Homo sapiens: one gene and its partners. The protein of the gene in region 4 purifies or fractionates together with the protein of the main gene of each other region. This does not show direct contact. Each region holds a gene or a part of one and is shown on either strand. Other genes may lie near its edges.

The links.
Region 1: the proteins of FER (region 4) and DNAJC1 fractionate together in Homo sapiens (co-fractionation; one large-scale study listed by BioGRID). This does not show direct contact.
Region 2: the proteins of FER (region 4) and ARHGAP23 purify together in Homo sapiens (affinity purification with mass spectrometry, with the first as the bait; one large-scale study listed by BioGRID). This does not show direct contact.
Region 3: the proteins of FER (region 4) and DNM1 fractionate together in Homo sapiens (co-fractionation; one study listed by BioGRID). This does not show direct contact.

Annotation. Positions count from the first base shown.
Region 1 is NC_000010.11:21,920,020-21,923,903, forward strand, and holds part of DNAJC1 (dnaJ homolog subfamily C member 1 precursor), read right to left. Parts: intron 945-3,884; coding exon 779-944; intron 1-778. UniProt on the Homo sapiens protein: May modulate protein synthesis.
Region 2 is NC_000017.11:38,431,185-38,435,068, forward strand, and holds part of ARHGAP23 (rho GTPase-activating protein 23), read left to right. Parts: intron 1-3,884.
Region 3 is NC_000009.12:128,216,879-128,220,378, reverse strand, and holds part of DNM1 (dynamin-1), read right to left. Parts: intron 2,149-3,500; coding exon 2,075-2,148; intron 1,798-2,074; coding exon 1,648-1,797; intron 1,331-1,647; coding exon 1,127-1,330; intron 392-1,126; coding exon 293-391; intron 199-292; coding exon 38-198; intron 1-37. UniProt on the Homo sapiens protein: Catalyzes the hydrolysis of GTP and utilizes this energy to mediate vesicle scission and participates in many forms of endocytosis, such as clathrin-mediated endocytosis or synaptic vesicle endocytosis as well as rapid endocytosis (RE).
Region 4 is NC_000005.10:109,188,290-109,192,173, forward strand, and holds part of FER (tyrosine-protein kinase Fer), read left to right. Parts: 3' UTR 1-3,884. UniProt on the Homo sapiens protein: Tyrosine-protein kinase that acts downstream of cell surface receptors for growth factors and plays a role in the regulation of the actin cytoskeleton, microtubule assembly, lamellipodia formation, cell adhesion, cell migration and chemotaxis.

The DNA of each region.
Region 1 (3,884 bases), on a different chromosome or scaffold from region 4:
AGAGGAACATTTATGCAAATGTATGTAGGGTCCAACATGATTAAGTAAAATCATCAATCTTTCACAATAACTGTTGCCATGGTATCCAGGCCTTAAACACACATGAAGTTCAGGACTGTCAGTCATGTGCATCTCCATAGCAATCAAAGTTTTCTAAGAAGAGAAAGCATTCAACTCACTTTTTCTCATTCATCCAACTTTAATAATGTCACTTCAAAAGGAATGAGTAAACAGATGCTAATTCATGAATACTGATAAATATGTTTGATTATCTTTAACATATAAATAAAAACCCAAAGAATAAACTATAGAGTAGCATATTAAACCAAGAAAAGTGTAATAATTTTTTTAACCAATTGAAGTTAGAATATTATATTCATTTCCAATTTTATTTATTTACCTAAAACATTTTAAAAGTAAACATTCATTATATAAAGGCCTGTGACACAAAAAAATCTAAAATCAGTCTTAAATAAAAAATATTTCTATTTGGAAGGTGATAATGAAAACATGGCTCTACCTTCTAATTCCCAGCTAGATATTTGGGCTTTCACAAAGTTTTATAACAAACTTAAGTGCCACATTTTTTAAAAGAAGAATATTTTCTTATTTCATGGGTTCTTCTTGACTTAGAAATATGTCAAACATTGAGTATAAAACTATTAGAATGAGAAGTATACAGAGAGAAACAGAAATTTTCATCAGTTGAAAAATAAATGTCCAAAATTCCATATAAAATTAAGGAGGCTAGTTCATTTGATTTATTACTAACACTTACCAGTTGTTTTTCCAGGTAGATTGACCAAACCACAGCATAATGACCCACTGTGAGAATAATGAACAAGAGTAATGCCAGCTCAGCATTGCTCATTTTTCTCACCCGCCTGTAGTAGAATACAGGCTGTCGCCAATCTGGAAGTCCATTGATCAGAATATCATCATACCTACAGTACAAATATAACAGTTTTTCACGGGGAGTTTAAAATAAAAACAAAAAAAACTATTTGTGCCTATATTACAAAAAGGAAAAAGAAAACAAATTATCCAAAATAGATAATGTTTATGTACGTTCCCAGCATTATAATATCGAGTAAATTCAAAGCACTGTAGATAGCTCTAGTCACTGACACCCTTCAAAAAAGTGTCCAGTAATATACTGTGGATACCAGATCTCATGTTTTTACAGCACCCAAAGATGTGACTCCTGGAGTGACATCTAAACTAAAGGAGCTACGTGTAGTCTACCTGTCTACTAGTCTATAGTAAAGACTCTACCATTGAAGTCAGCAACAAAAAGGAGGATCTCAATAGGAGAAAGATCAAGATAAGAGCTGTTTGTTACCGTGAATTACATATTAATTGAATCAAATTCAGAATAAATTTTCTAGTCAGTGCTTTTATGTCTACCCCTAAACTACGGTGGCTCAAGGCTGAAGTATTTATACACATGATTTTATCAAAGCTTTTTAATGAGGTAAAAGCCTATAAAATTGAGTGTCTTTTAATTTTGTATTGCTATATTCCTTTAGAAAATAAAAAACTCCCAAATTAAAAAGAGATGTGGTAACAACCAGTGTTTATGTTGGATTTCTCAATAAAACTGTTTATTTGTAAACAATTAAGTGGCAATTTCCTCATTTTTGGCTTTTGCTGGAAGAGAAGAACATTAACAAGTAAAAGCTTTCCTAGTCCTTTAAAAAGCTGATGCATTTTAAATCAGCTTTCTTGGTACTATCAGGATAAAAAAGTTACTTTAAAATAAATTTTCAACTCAATTTAAATTTACTTGTCAGACAATCATTGAACAAATATCTTTGAGGTTAAAAATAAGGAGTAACATTTATGACTGTAAAACTCAAAATGGTCACATACAAACACTGTGTGTTCAACACACACAACCTGTTAATTGAACACAACTCATTAAATATTCTAATCACACTATTTCCAGAATTAAATCTTCACTGAAAGGCCTAATTTGGTGCAACACATTGACCAAAATATTTTAATTAAAAATATTCTGAGTTAGTCGCAGGCCTAATTACAGGAATAGAAATAGGGCCTATATTGTCAGGCAGGTCAGTAGAACTCGGTAGTAGGTTTTTCTCAAGTAAATTGACCGATCTAGGAATAATAGCGCAGCTGCTAAACTGCCAGTCTTGACATGTAAATCAATTTAAATGCAACAACTGCAGTAGCTACTTTGATAGTTATTAAATTGATACCTTGGAGATATGCTAAAAAAATAAAGCAGAGGATTTATTACAGGCAACTTCTTTTTTCAGTAGAAAAACATCAGATATAAATGTAAAATATATTTTATTAGCAAATCTAGAAAACCTGACCTTCTGATCAACTTAGGTTATTAATAACAATATCATCAAATTGGAATAACCAATGTTGAAAGCAAAGGACATTAATTAGTACTAAACTCTTAAAAAGCAAATTGTGTAATATACAAGAGTCTACAAAGTAATGTATGGTTTGGCAGTAGCTACACCAGAAAAATTTGGTGCTATTCTTTTTCAATGTTTATCGAAATTCTTGAATATTAACATCAAGATATAATAATATGACTTCATAAAAACTATCATTCATGTTATCAAAAATTTATGTTTAAATCTATCTTATAAATACTGATTCATTTTAAATGAGAAAATGTATAGGTAAAAAGGTTTCAAGTGCTCTAACATAAGATTACAACATTCAAATGAAGTCCAATCAACCTTAAGTCCTGAATCTATTCTCAATCCACATTCTACTTCAGATTTGTTGAGGGAGAAAAAAGGTGAATATAGAAATCATCATTTTCAGCAAACCTCTCCCATGAAATAACTTCAGGTAAAAAGTATAGTTATTGATAAAGAACATCTAAGAAAATGGAGACAATTCCCTAATAGCACTCTTAAGTATTAAATTTGCTTTGGGTATAACTAAACTATAGCAGAAGAGAAAACAGCTGAACTCATAGCTAAGAATCTCTTATCAAATATTTTATCACCATCATAACTGAAAGTGCTATGTGTCTGTTAATAGCTACTATTTTCTACCCTACGTACAAATTGTATTTGGTGTACAAATTCAAGATAGCAAAATCTCATGCACTGAACACATTAAACAGAACTAGATATTTACTAGCCTATGTCTGTCACTCTAAACAACAGTCTCTAAGGATTAAGCTTAGAATCAATGCTCTATTGATTTTACTATCAATGAACTATATTATAGCTCACACGACTGGCCATTTTAAGGAAAGATAGCTTCCATTATAGTTCATTTTTTAGAATATATGCTGTTAAAAGATAAATCACTGCTTTCTTGATGAAACATTGAAAATACATTTCTTACCAAAGTACACACAGACACTTTTCATAAGTTATTTAAGAAGAAATACTGTGTTGACAACACATAAAATTTAAAACATCACTGTATTAGGCTTTTCTATATTTAAACATATAACACTGTTAAAATGCTCTGTATTTGGGATTCATACAAACTGTTCTCAACTATTTATTAAAGCCAGATTAAGAATGTATAAATGTATGTGTTGTAAGATATAAAGAAAGAAATCTCTATGATAAAAAATATCACTAATGCTAAAAATCATAGGAAATTATAATGGCATTTTCTTGGAAATGAAAACATTAATCAATTCCACATATCCAACATATGGCCTAATGTGTGTTTATTTCACTTGATTTTCTTAAAATATACATCAAGAACATAAAATAATGGTTACATACTCATTAGTGAGTTTTATACTATAATCTGCAATTCATCAAACATATTTAGGCTAATACAAACACTGAAAAACAAATCTAAAATTTTTTCAAGTTACCAGCAGAAAAATGTACAGAAATTTAAAACGTTACAATTTTTTGAAATAT
Region 2 (3,884 bases), on a different chromosome or scaffold from region 4:
CCCAAGATCAAGGTCAGCTTCTGGCTGGATTGCAGCTTAGTTGCTTGTCTTTTGTTCTATTTCTTTACTCCTCCAATCTTTCCCACCCTGCCCCATGCTAGCCCATAGCACTGGGCCAGGGCTCGGTTCACTGGTGTTTTCCTTCCAAAGGGGCATGAAGCCCTGCTCTGTTGGCTGCAGGGGTTCAAAGGTAAGATATTGGCTTGGTCAGGGATTTGGACAAAGCCTGGTTTTAATGATCCTGCTCTCACCATCTCGGGAGAGAGACATGAATAGGGCCTGTGGGAGCTGGTGCTGCCTTTCCCCTAGCACCCTCCACCCGCTTCAAACAACCCGCCTTCAGATCCAGGCCCCCCTGTTTCTTGTGAAATTGTGCCAGTTTGTCAGCAGGGCAGTACCAATCTGTGCCAGGTGGGTGTCTCCTCCCCCATTGCCTCAGTGGGACATCAGGCTGAGATGGCCTTGGGGCTGGACTTTGGGGAGATTTTAAAGCCCTTTTGGGTTGGGGTGTATTTACCACCTGTCAGAGTGGGTGAGGACCAAAGGGGTGATCGTGTCCAACTCTGTTACGCTACAGTGGGGAAACAGACTGGGGAGTGCCCAAGGTCCCTCAGCCTCGGCAGACAAGGACCCATCTTCTGACTCCCAGCTCCCAGGCCATGCCTTTCCCTCTGTGGTTGGTTCTGTCCTTCGTGGCCCCCCTCAGTGCAGGGTTCATGGACTGGGCTCCAAGAGGGAGAGGGGAGGGCAGGGAGCTGCAGGGATGAGTGGACAATGTATCCTGTTCATCTCTGTGTCCCCAGTGGCCAGCACAGAGCCTGGCACAGAGCAGTTCTCCATAAATGTTTGTGAAGTACAAACCAGGGAACAGCCCCGCCTGTGGCCCCCCAGGGCGCCCCATGCCCAGCTCTACCCCTGACACTGTGATGTTCCATCTCATATCCGTCTACCCTACCAGGTAGGAGTTATTTGAGGCCGAGAAAAATGATAATAGCAACTTCTTCCATAGTGCTTACCACTATGTTGGTATATTACCATCACCCCACTTGACAGATTAAGAAACTGACACAGGCCGGGTACAGTGGCTCACACCTGTAATCCCAGCACTTTGGGAGGCCAAGGTAGGAGGATCACTTGGACTCAGGAGTTTGAGACCAGCCTGGGTGACACAAGGAGACCCAATACCTACAGAAAAATTTTAAAAATTAGCTGGGGCCAGGAGCAGTGGCTGACACCTGTAATCCCAGCACTTTGGGAGGCCAAGGCGGGTGGATCACCTGAGGTCAGGAGTTTGAGACCAGCCTGGCCAACATGGTGAAACACTGTCCCTACTAAAATTACAAAATTAGCTGGGTGAAGTGACACACACCTGTAGTCCCAGCTACTTGGGAGCCTGAGGCAGGAGAATCGCTTGAACCTGGGAGAGGGAGATTGCAATGAGCCAAGATCACGCCATTGCATTCTAGTCTGAGTGACAAGAGCAAAATGTAGTCTTAAAAAAAAAAAAAATTAGCTGGGCATGTAGTCCCAGCTACTCGGGTGGTGGAAGTGGGAAAATCACTTGAGCTGGGGGGTTCGAGTCTGCAGTGAGCTGTGATTGCACCACTGCACTCCAGCCTGGGCAACATAATGAGACCCTGTCTCAAAAAACCAAACCAAACGAAACAAAAAAGCTCTGCCTGCCTTCAGCCTGCTGAGGTCCAAATTTTAGATGTACTCCTTGTTCACTGTGTGCCCTTGGACAAGTTACTTCATTGTTTTAGCCTCGGCTTTCTTTTATTCTTTTGAGGCAGGGTCTTGTTCTGTTGCTCAGGCTGAAGTGCAGTGGTGTGAGCTTGGTACACTGCAGCCTTGAACTCCTGGGATCAAGTGAGCCTCCCTCCTCAGCCTCCTGAGTAGTTGAGACTACAGGTGCATGCCACCATGCCCAGCTAATTTTTCCATTTTGTATTTTTTATAGAGACAGGGTTTTGCCATGTTGCCCAGGCTGGTCTCAAAATTCCTGGACTCAAGTGATCCTCCCACTTTGGCCTCCCAAAGTGCGGGGATTACAGGTGTGAGCCACCACACCTGGCTGGTTTTCTTATCCCTGAAATAATCCCTCAAAATTACAGAGAGGGCTAAATGAGGTAGTATTGGTAAAGTGGCTGAGATTTAGTAATCTCAATTATTGGTAGCAACTATTATTAAAAAAAATCAATGGATAGAAATGAGAACAATGCACTTTTGCCTCAGTAAAAAGTACTGACCTTTATGGTCAGAGCAATCTAAAGAGAAAGTGACCTGCCTCTGGAGGTAATGAGGCCCCCATCACTGGAGGTGCAGTGAGGTCTGGGCAAGCACAGGCTGGAGAATGATGTGCACTAGAGAGAATTCAGCAAAGGCTTGGCACAGGAAACTTTAAGGGCCCTGCCTTGGGATCAGCACTATATGATAGGAAATTAGAGGAGCAGGTGAATCCTACTTCCTACTGTGGGGCATTGAGGAGAGCAGGCAGAGATGTCCCCAGCCTCTGGGAACATCAGGGGTTGGCTGCTATGGTTTGGACTGTGAGGCTCCCCAGAGGATAGGTAGTCCTGAGAGGCTGCCTGGAGGAGGCCTGCAAGGGTGGGTATGGTTCTGATAGGTGGGAAAATGTGGGATTGTATTCTAGGCCCAGGAAGGGCTTGGTGGCCGAGGGACAGAGAGGAGCCTGGGCCACTGGTCCTGAGGTTGGCCCCGGGGTTGCGTCATCATCCTCGTGCCTCAGTCTCCTGGGCTGCTGGGATTACAGGTGTGCCACTACACCTGGCTAATTTTTTTTATTTTTTTAGAGACAAGGTTTCGGCATGTTGGCTGGCATGTTGGCCAGGCTGGTCTCGAACTCCTGACCTCAGGTGATCCACTTGCCTTGGCCTCCCGAAGTGCTGGGATTACAAGCGTGAGCCACCGCGCCTGGCTGGATTTTGTCATCATCCTGGGTGCCCAAGGGGTTTGGGTGTATGGTGGTGGCAGTGGGGAAACTAGTAATTCCCTGTCCCGCCAACCCCCCAGCTTCTCCTGGAGGAGGAGCCAGGGCTACTCCCGGTGGCAAGGAGCCCGGGCCCGTAAGGAGCGGAACTGGGGAAAGAAAGACTTCTTATGCCCAGTGCATTTGGGGGCGTCCGGGGGTCGGGGAACAGTGGGGCCTTTGTCCCCAACCGCTGGGAATCTGGCCGAGGAGCTGGCCCTGGGTCTGGCTAGGCCCTCGGAAGGCAGGTCCTCTTTGAAGTGACCCTTTCAAAGCTCGGCCTGAATCCCTGGGAGGAGAGACAGCATGGGGCGGGGCGTGGGGATGACTGAGACCCAAGGGCCGAGGCCTGAGGGATAGAAACAGACCCGGCCTTGGCCTCTTGGGGTGTGGAGGTTGGTCGGAGGTGTGTGGGCCGGAGGAATGTGGTGGGCTGGGAGACCGCGTGGGAGCCATGTGGGAGGACAACCACGCAAGGGGCCTTAGCCCCAAGTGGGGGTGCACCTAGGCAGGGGCCGAGTTCATTCTGGCCCGAGAGTGTTTCTGTCTCCTATCTGACTTCTGTCTGGCTCTGTGCTCCTGTATCAACAGCTGCTTCTTCCTTTTTAATTTCCCCAAAAGTGTGAGAGCTTGGAAAGAATCGGGTGTGGACGCCAGACTCAGAGCTCTTGGGAGGAGGGAGAGGTGGGGACCTGGGCAATCCAGAGCTTTTCCTGCTTCTGAGAGCCCCCGAAGGCTGGAAGGAGAGGCTGGAGGGGACACCCCCACCTCCCGCATAGAGTCTCCCTTATGCTCAAGGTGGAGGAACTCTGTATTGTTCCTGAAAAGGGACAGAAGGAGGAGGAAAGCTACCCAGAGAGGGGACATCTTCCTTTGCTTCAGCTGGAGGAATATC
Region 3 (3,500 bases), on a different chromosome or scaffold from region 4:
TTGTTTCCCCAGGCCCCATCCTGGCTTGGTCGCCTACCTGATTGAGGACCTTCTGCAGGTAGGGCGTGCCCATACGGTCAGCCAAGTGGCGATAAGATGGATGGGAGAGGAAGAACTTTCGTTCAGCAGCCAAGGCGGCGGTAATGTCCTTCTTGCCATCAATGTCCTTCTGGCTCCGGTTCACCACTCCAATGTAGCCTGTGAACAGTATCAAGGTCAGGGCAACCAGCCTCAAGAGGAGGGGAAGGGTGGGGAAGGGCTGGGGAGTGGTTGAGGGGCATGGCCTGCTTACCTCTGCGCAGGGGGAGCAGCTTGTTCTCCAGCACATCACGGGCATCTGTGCCCTCGTCCATCAGGTCCAGCTTGGTGATGACCCCGATGGTGCGCTGGCCTGGGTGCACCAGCAGGAGGGCCGTCTACAGCTGCACCCGCTCTCACACACAATTCCATGCACTCCCACTCCCATCCCCCTGCTCTCCTCGGCCCCCTGCCTGCTCACTGCCTCCTCTCTTTCCCCCTTATTCATTTTCCACAGAGTAGCCAAAATGATTTTTATTTATTCTTCTTGTTTTTTTATTTGTTAGAGATGGGATCTCGCTTTGTTGCCAGGCTGGTTTCCAACTCCTGGCTTCAAGCGATCCTCCCAAGTTGGCCTCCCAAAGTGCTGGGATTACAGGCATGAGCCACTGCACCCAGCCTTTTTTTCTTTTTTGAGACAGGGTCTCACTCTTGCCCATGCTGGACTGCAGTGGTGCGAGTAGGGCTCACTGCAGCCTCAACCTCCTGGGCTCAAGTGATTCTCTGGCCTCAGCCTCACGAGTAGCTGGGACCACAAGCGTGCACCACGGTGCCCGGCTAATTTTTAAATTTTTTGTAGAAATGGGGTCTCACTAGGTTGCCCAGCCTTGTCTCGAACTCCTGGGCTCAAGCAATCCTCCCGGCTTGGCCTCCCAAAGTGCTGGGATTACAGGCATGAGCTACCATGCCTGACCCCCAAAGTGATTTTTAAAGGTACAAATCTGATCCCACCGCTATTCTTAGACCGTTCAGAGGCTCCCCTTTACACTAAGAATAGACAGCCTGCAAGCCTGGGGTTTTGTGCATTGGCCACCGGGTGGGAACCTACCCTGGGGGTCCACCTCCTTGGCGACCTTGAGGGCGTCAGAATTGGCCAGGTCAGAGTTGGCGGGGGACACGGCCAGGATGAGGCAGTTCTCCTTGGTGACAAACTGCATAAGCATGTCTCGGATCTGGAACTCGATGTCGGGAGGTTGGTCCCCCACCGGGACCTTGGTCATTCCGGGCAGGTCCACCAGGGTCAGGTTCAGCACTGGACAGGGCGGCGAGAGGGCGGGCTCAAGGCGAGGGGCGTGGCCGCGGGCGAGGTTAAAGAATAGGGCGGGGTTAGAGAAGCTGCTTGGGAGCAGGGTGGCAGGTGGGTGGGACTAGGAAATCTCAGGGCGAAAGTGGCAGTCTGTTGGAGGCGTGGCCGGAAGTGGGCGGAATCACGGCAGGGTGGAGCTTGGAATAGGATGATGCAGAGGCAGGGTCATTCTAGGGGCGGAGTCTGCAGGAGGAGCGAGGCACGCAGAGGTGCGTGGCCAAGAAAATGATTCTTAGAGGTTAGGGCGGGGCCAGGGTCCTCACCGTGCGGCGAGTAGACGCGGAGGTTGATAGGCACCGGCGAGATGCCCTTGTTGGTGCCGGTGACCCTGTCGGTCTCGGCCTCGATCTCAAGGCGCACCTCCTCGAAGTCGGTGAATTTCTTTCCCTTGCAGTGCAGGAACTCGGCATATTCTGCTCCAGAAGCGGGCAGGGGAAGGGCAGTAGGCATCAAGGTCTGGAACCCCACCTGGGGGTTTTCATCTCCCACCGGTAATAGAACCCCCTAGACACACCCAAGCAGAACCACCACCCACGTCTCCATTATGTATTTTGATCCCCGCTATCCCTAAGGGGAACGAGGCCCACAGTCACACAGCAAGCAAGTTCGTGGCCAGGCTGGCCCTCAGCTTGGGGACGGGGGAGAGGCTGGAGTGGGCAGGCCTGGCTGCTGGTGAAGGAGGGCACGTACCTGTGGTTGCATTGACCAGCTGCAAGACCAGGGGACGTCGGGTGACAATGCCAGATCCTCGAGGCAAGAAGTCCCTGCAATGAGTTGGAGGTCAAAGGAGGGTCAAGATATGAGGGGGCGCCCTCTGTCCCAGGGGTACCTGTCCGGCCCCTGGGAAAGCCAAAGCTCCTTCCAAAGTGCTGGCTCCACCGCTCCTTAGCCCAGGGGCTTCAGGTAACTAAGAGCATATGGCAGCCCAGAAAGGTGGAAAATACTTTTCCTCAAGTCGCCTGGGTCACAGAATTTATGCATCTGAGCTGCCAAGAGACTGGATCAACTCCTAGATACGTCCTGTGTTGGTTTTGAACCAATAGGAAGTCCCTGCCCCAACTCAGCCACGGCCATTCAGCCCCAGAAAACTGAGGCATGGGGTCTCCCACATGCCTATGTGTCCAATGCCCACAGAGTGGATCCCAGGAAACAGAGCTGTAACTTCTCCCCTCCCTTCCGCTGTGGGGCAGGGCAGCATCTCACTTCCCCTTCTCCAGGCTCCATATGGCTAGGGTTGAAGAAGAGTGGGGAAGGAGGTGGCAAGGAAAAGGACTCATGGGCCGGGCGCGGTGGCTCACGCCTGTAATCCCAGCACTTTGGAGGCTGAGGCGGGCGGATCACCTGAGGTCAGGAGTTTGAGACCAGCCTGGCCAACATGGTGAAACCCTGTCTCTACTAAAAATACAAAAAAATTAGCCGGCGGGGTGTCAGGCACCTGTAATCTCAGCTATTTGGGAGGCTGAGGCAGGAGAATTGTTTGAACCCGGGAGGCGGAGGTTACGGTGAGCCAAGATCGCGCCATTGCACTCCAGCCTAGGCGACAAGAGCAAAACTCCACCTCAAAAAAACCCACAAAGAAACAAAAAAACTCATGCTTCTTAGTGCCTACTGCATGCCAGGCGCTTAGTGGGGCTCCATACTGTAGCCCCATGAGGCAGGTGCTGTTATTACCCCCATTTTGCAGATGAGGGAGCTGCACCTTAGAGACATTCAGGTTGCACAGCCAGTATCTGGCAGAGCAGACCCTGGTCTCGGATATATTTGACTCTGCAGTGACACTCCCCTGCCCTTCAGCCCCCTGTGAACCGAGCCGCCTTTGAAGGACTGGACTGAGAGGTCCCAAAGTCATCCCCCGTCCCCAGACCTGACAGTCTATAGCTTAGACATCTGCTCGTGCCAATGTCAACCTCAGCTGTCCTTTTGGCTGACTCTTGTGGGTGCCGGTTCTCTGTCCAGTCAGCTCTTTTCATCCACCTCCCTCTGCACCACCCTCCAGCTGGCGCAAGCACAAGGGTGAAGGCCTCTCCAGGAATCAGGATGTCAGAATTGCCAGTCATGGGATCTCCAGGGCCCAGGAAAGGGGGGAACAGGTTGAAGCCCGAGGGACCATTGAGAC
Region 4 (3,884 bases):
CAGCCCCCTCCCTCCTTTGGGAGGCTGAGGCAGGCGGATCACCTGAGGTCAGGAGTTCGAGACCAGCCTGGCTTGCATGGTGAAACCCTGTCTCTACCAAAAAAAAAAAAAGAAACACACACACAACGCATGAAACGTCGTCAAAGTTAGAGTTGAGGCAGTTGCTTTTCAAGGATGTACAGAGAGCTGTGAAGCAAGAAACAGATTTGAACAGGAGGGTGGGCTGGAGAACAGAGCAGCTAAAGAATGATTAACAGAGTAAAGAAGAAAGTGAAAATATAAAACCACCTTATCAGAGTTATGCCTTTCTAAACATCTAAACAAACAAACATTCACATATTCTATTCTAAAAACACATAATAATACATATTCTATTTTATGGTCTGAATTTACCAGAAAGGTCCTAAGAAAAGTTTCAGGAGTTCGTAGAGTCCTCGTAATGGCAACAAAAATTTTGAGAGAAACTGCAAAGCACAAATCCACAGAAATAACAGCATACTTTCAGTTAAGCATTTTCACCTTAGAGGGGGCATTCCAAAATGTAATTTCCTTTATTTGTACCAGTTTTTAGAGCTGTCAGAATTTCATGATTCTAGTTCACCAACACATTCACGTGTGTACATGCGCGTGCACACACACCACCAAGGTGCAAGACAGATGTGAATGAAGTAGACAGTCTAGAAGTCAGGTGAATATTAATGAGAAATATGACATAGGGACAGCCCTCCCATTTCTACTTCCACCTTCATTGACCATTATACTGCCCCCTGGACATTCTTACCATTAGCTGACAGGTATGCAAGCAGAGTGCTGAAGATGTCTCATGTGAATAAAATGTAACTCACTCACTCAGTTAAAACTAGGATTCTGTATCTTAACTCTTATCTAGGGAACTTACTTACTTACCCCATGATCTGTATATAGTTGCCTCTCAGGATAAATGCATATATAGAAGATGGTCATGCTCAGGGCTAAATATGTTCTGGAAGCCTTTTATAAGTTCTCAGGCCTGTGTCCTGGTAAACATTACCTTAGTGATTATTTGGTCTGCATTCATTGGAAGAGCTTAGGGATAGAAAATGCCTCCTGCCCTCTCCAGCTGTTTGCTGCCTGTACCATCGCACAGAACTCACACCAGTACTTTAGAGTATGAAAGATAATACTGAAGAGAAAAGTGACTTGTATCTAACATTTCAATCTCCTTGCAGATTTCATACATACTTAATGATTAGTACATTCAGACTAAAGGGAAATTTCTTTTGATGGCACGTACTATGGTAAATCAAAGCGCAAACTCAGAAGTGCTATGGTATTGAGGCACTTACCAACCTTCAAAAGTAAGAGTAAAATGGGATATTCCTACCCTTTTTTTTAGTATTTCTAAGTGAATCTCTGTAATATTCTTTGTCTGTTTAAAGAAAACAGCCTCCCATCTCATAGTGGCTTCATGCTAAGCTCTCAGCAAGGAGAGAGAATGATGGTTTTGGCTTTAGTTTTATGAACAAGACCTAAAGCTTAATCCTGACATTCTGGTGTTAAGAATGAACACAGCATTGATATTTCACTTATCCAGGCTGTTAGAATTTGCAGTTCACATCATTACTCTGTGCTTAAATTTAAAAAGCTTTTCAAAACATCGTGACATGTGTAGCATTTAAATTCCATTTTATTCTTTGTCCTAAAGCAGGCAGTGGTATAGTTCAGGATTAATAACTTATTGGGAGTCTCTCAGTCATATAGAATATTAAATTTAATATAGTCACATGCATTAAGAAAAACTTACGCAAACAGTTTTTCACTGTTAATTTTGTTGTGCTTGAAGCATAATTTATTCATCCCTTCTGTCACTGATAATTAATTATTGGAATTATATACTTTAGGAGGCTAATCCATGCCCAGGAAGCACGAACATACTGTTCAGAATGTGCAAGTTGATGTAGGGAAAGGAAGATTCAGAAATGTACAAAATCCTGTGATTTGTTTAGTAAGAAAAGAGTTGTAACCAAAATTTCTTCTGGTCCGGATGTAATTAGTCCAGTCACAAATCTTTGTGTTGTTAATGGATTATTCAAGATATATATATATATTCTTACTACTGCATAGTTCCTCTCATAAGTCCTTAAATTTATTAAAAGGGGGAGGTAAACACAAGCAGTCTGTGTCTCACTGGTCACTAAGGGGCCTTTATGAGACAGTTTAGGTTGTTCATCATTTCACAAGGAAAGAAATTTTTCACTGTTAAATTAACATTTATTACCAACATGTGAAACCTAAAATTAATTTTGCATTCCATGTAATCTAAGGCCAAAGCCAACATATTCTTTCTCTTCTGGGAAAATAAAATTGACAGGTTTTGTTTAAACTTCAGAAACTGAAGCTTTATTTCAGCCTGTCCTGCCATGAGGTCTCCAGTGAGAGGTCTCCAGTGAAAGGTCTCATGTAATTGTTTCTCTTTTATCTCCCAAATTTAATGTGGGCAATAAAATTCTCCTTTCGTAATTCACTGTTTTATTACAAATACGATATTACTGAAACATCTTATTAGCAGATAAGTATAGACCAGGAGCCTAACTGTGTTAGATATTTTCAGTGCACATTTCACAGTTGTTTTTCATTTTAGGATTATTTTGAGAAGAAAAAATGTTTTGTAATTGAAATAGTTTTAATTTCCTTTAAACCATAATTTGGTTTTTCTATCTATATTATATTCAGTTCAGTTTTCCCATATAACTTTTGTGAAGATTGGCTAGTACCACAAAATAACTATGGCTTCACAATACTAGTGTTAGATTATGTCAAGAAGAAAGTGTTTTAGTTACAACATACGCCACCCACTGAGGACCTTGTAGTGGGATAAACAAAAATTAAAATGCAACAATCCAAATAAATTATAATGTAACAATACAAATATCTGAATCATAAGTCACAGTTTTTCAGGGTTCTTTCAGTCACACCACTTTATAATTAATTCTGGTGAGTCATCAGATGTAGGAATGTACCTGAAAACCTTACTTAGTATACTGTGTACACTGTTTAATGGCCATGCATCTTTTGAAGTTTGATATTTTCTGAAAAAGCATTGTTTGCCTCAGCCCTCTTCTTTTTACGTATACTCCATTTATCATTGATATTTTAGATGTTTCTTATCAACAAAATTGGCTGCCCTGGTTAGTGCTGAGTCATCGCAAGACTTGCTTTTGCATTTAGGAAGCCACACCCTCCCACAAAACAGAACAGTGCAAAATAAGCAGCAGAGAGACAGACAGTTGGAAAAGACATGTTTTCTTTAGGTATTAATATCTTAATTAAATGGAATCAGATTTTGTATGGAAATGAGTTTATATTACATTTCCATTATACTAAGTCAGTGTGAAAGTTTACCATCAAAATAGCGTTACTTCTTTTATGACTAACTCTGATTTGCTTATACATATCAGAATGATATTCATTAAATATTTTAATTTCATTTATTTTTCTATGTTTTGATTAGTTTCACATCAAGTCTGAATACTATATTTTGGAAGAATCCAAAACCACATATGAAGATACTGATTTTAAAAGTCAGGATTTCATGTACCAAGAATGACCTACTTGAAGGAGATTTTGCTACACTCTTAGAGTCCCAAAAATTCCCCTTTAAAAAAAATGCTGTCCTACAGAAGGTGTATAAACTATACCTTAGCCATAATTCAATTTAATGAAATACTACCCCATTAAAAGCCATCCTCCTGCCTCATACCGATTCAGAAATTAAATTCTGAACTTTTAGTGTAGGCATTAGGAATCACTTAGCCACTTAATAAGGACTGAGATTCTTGGGTGGCAGAAAAATCCTGGTGTGCTAGATTCTTAGTCACTTTAAACTGCATAGAAGTAATGAGCAT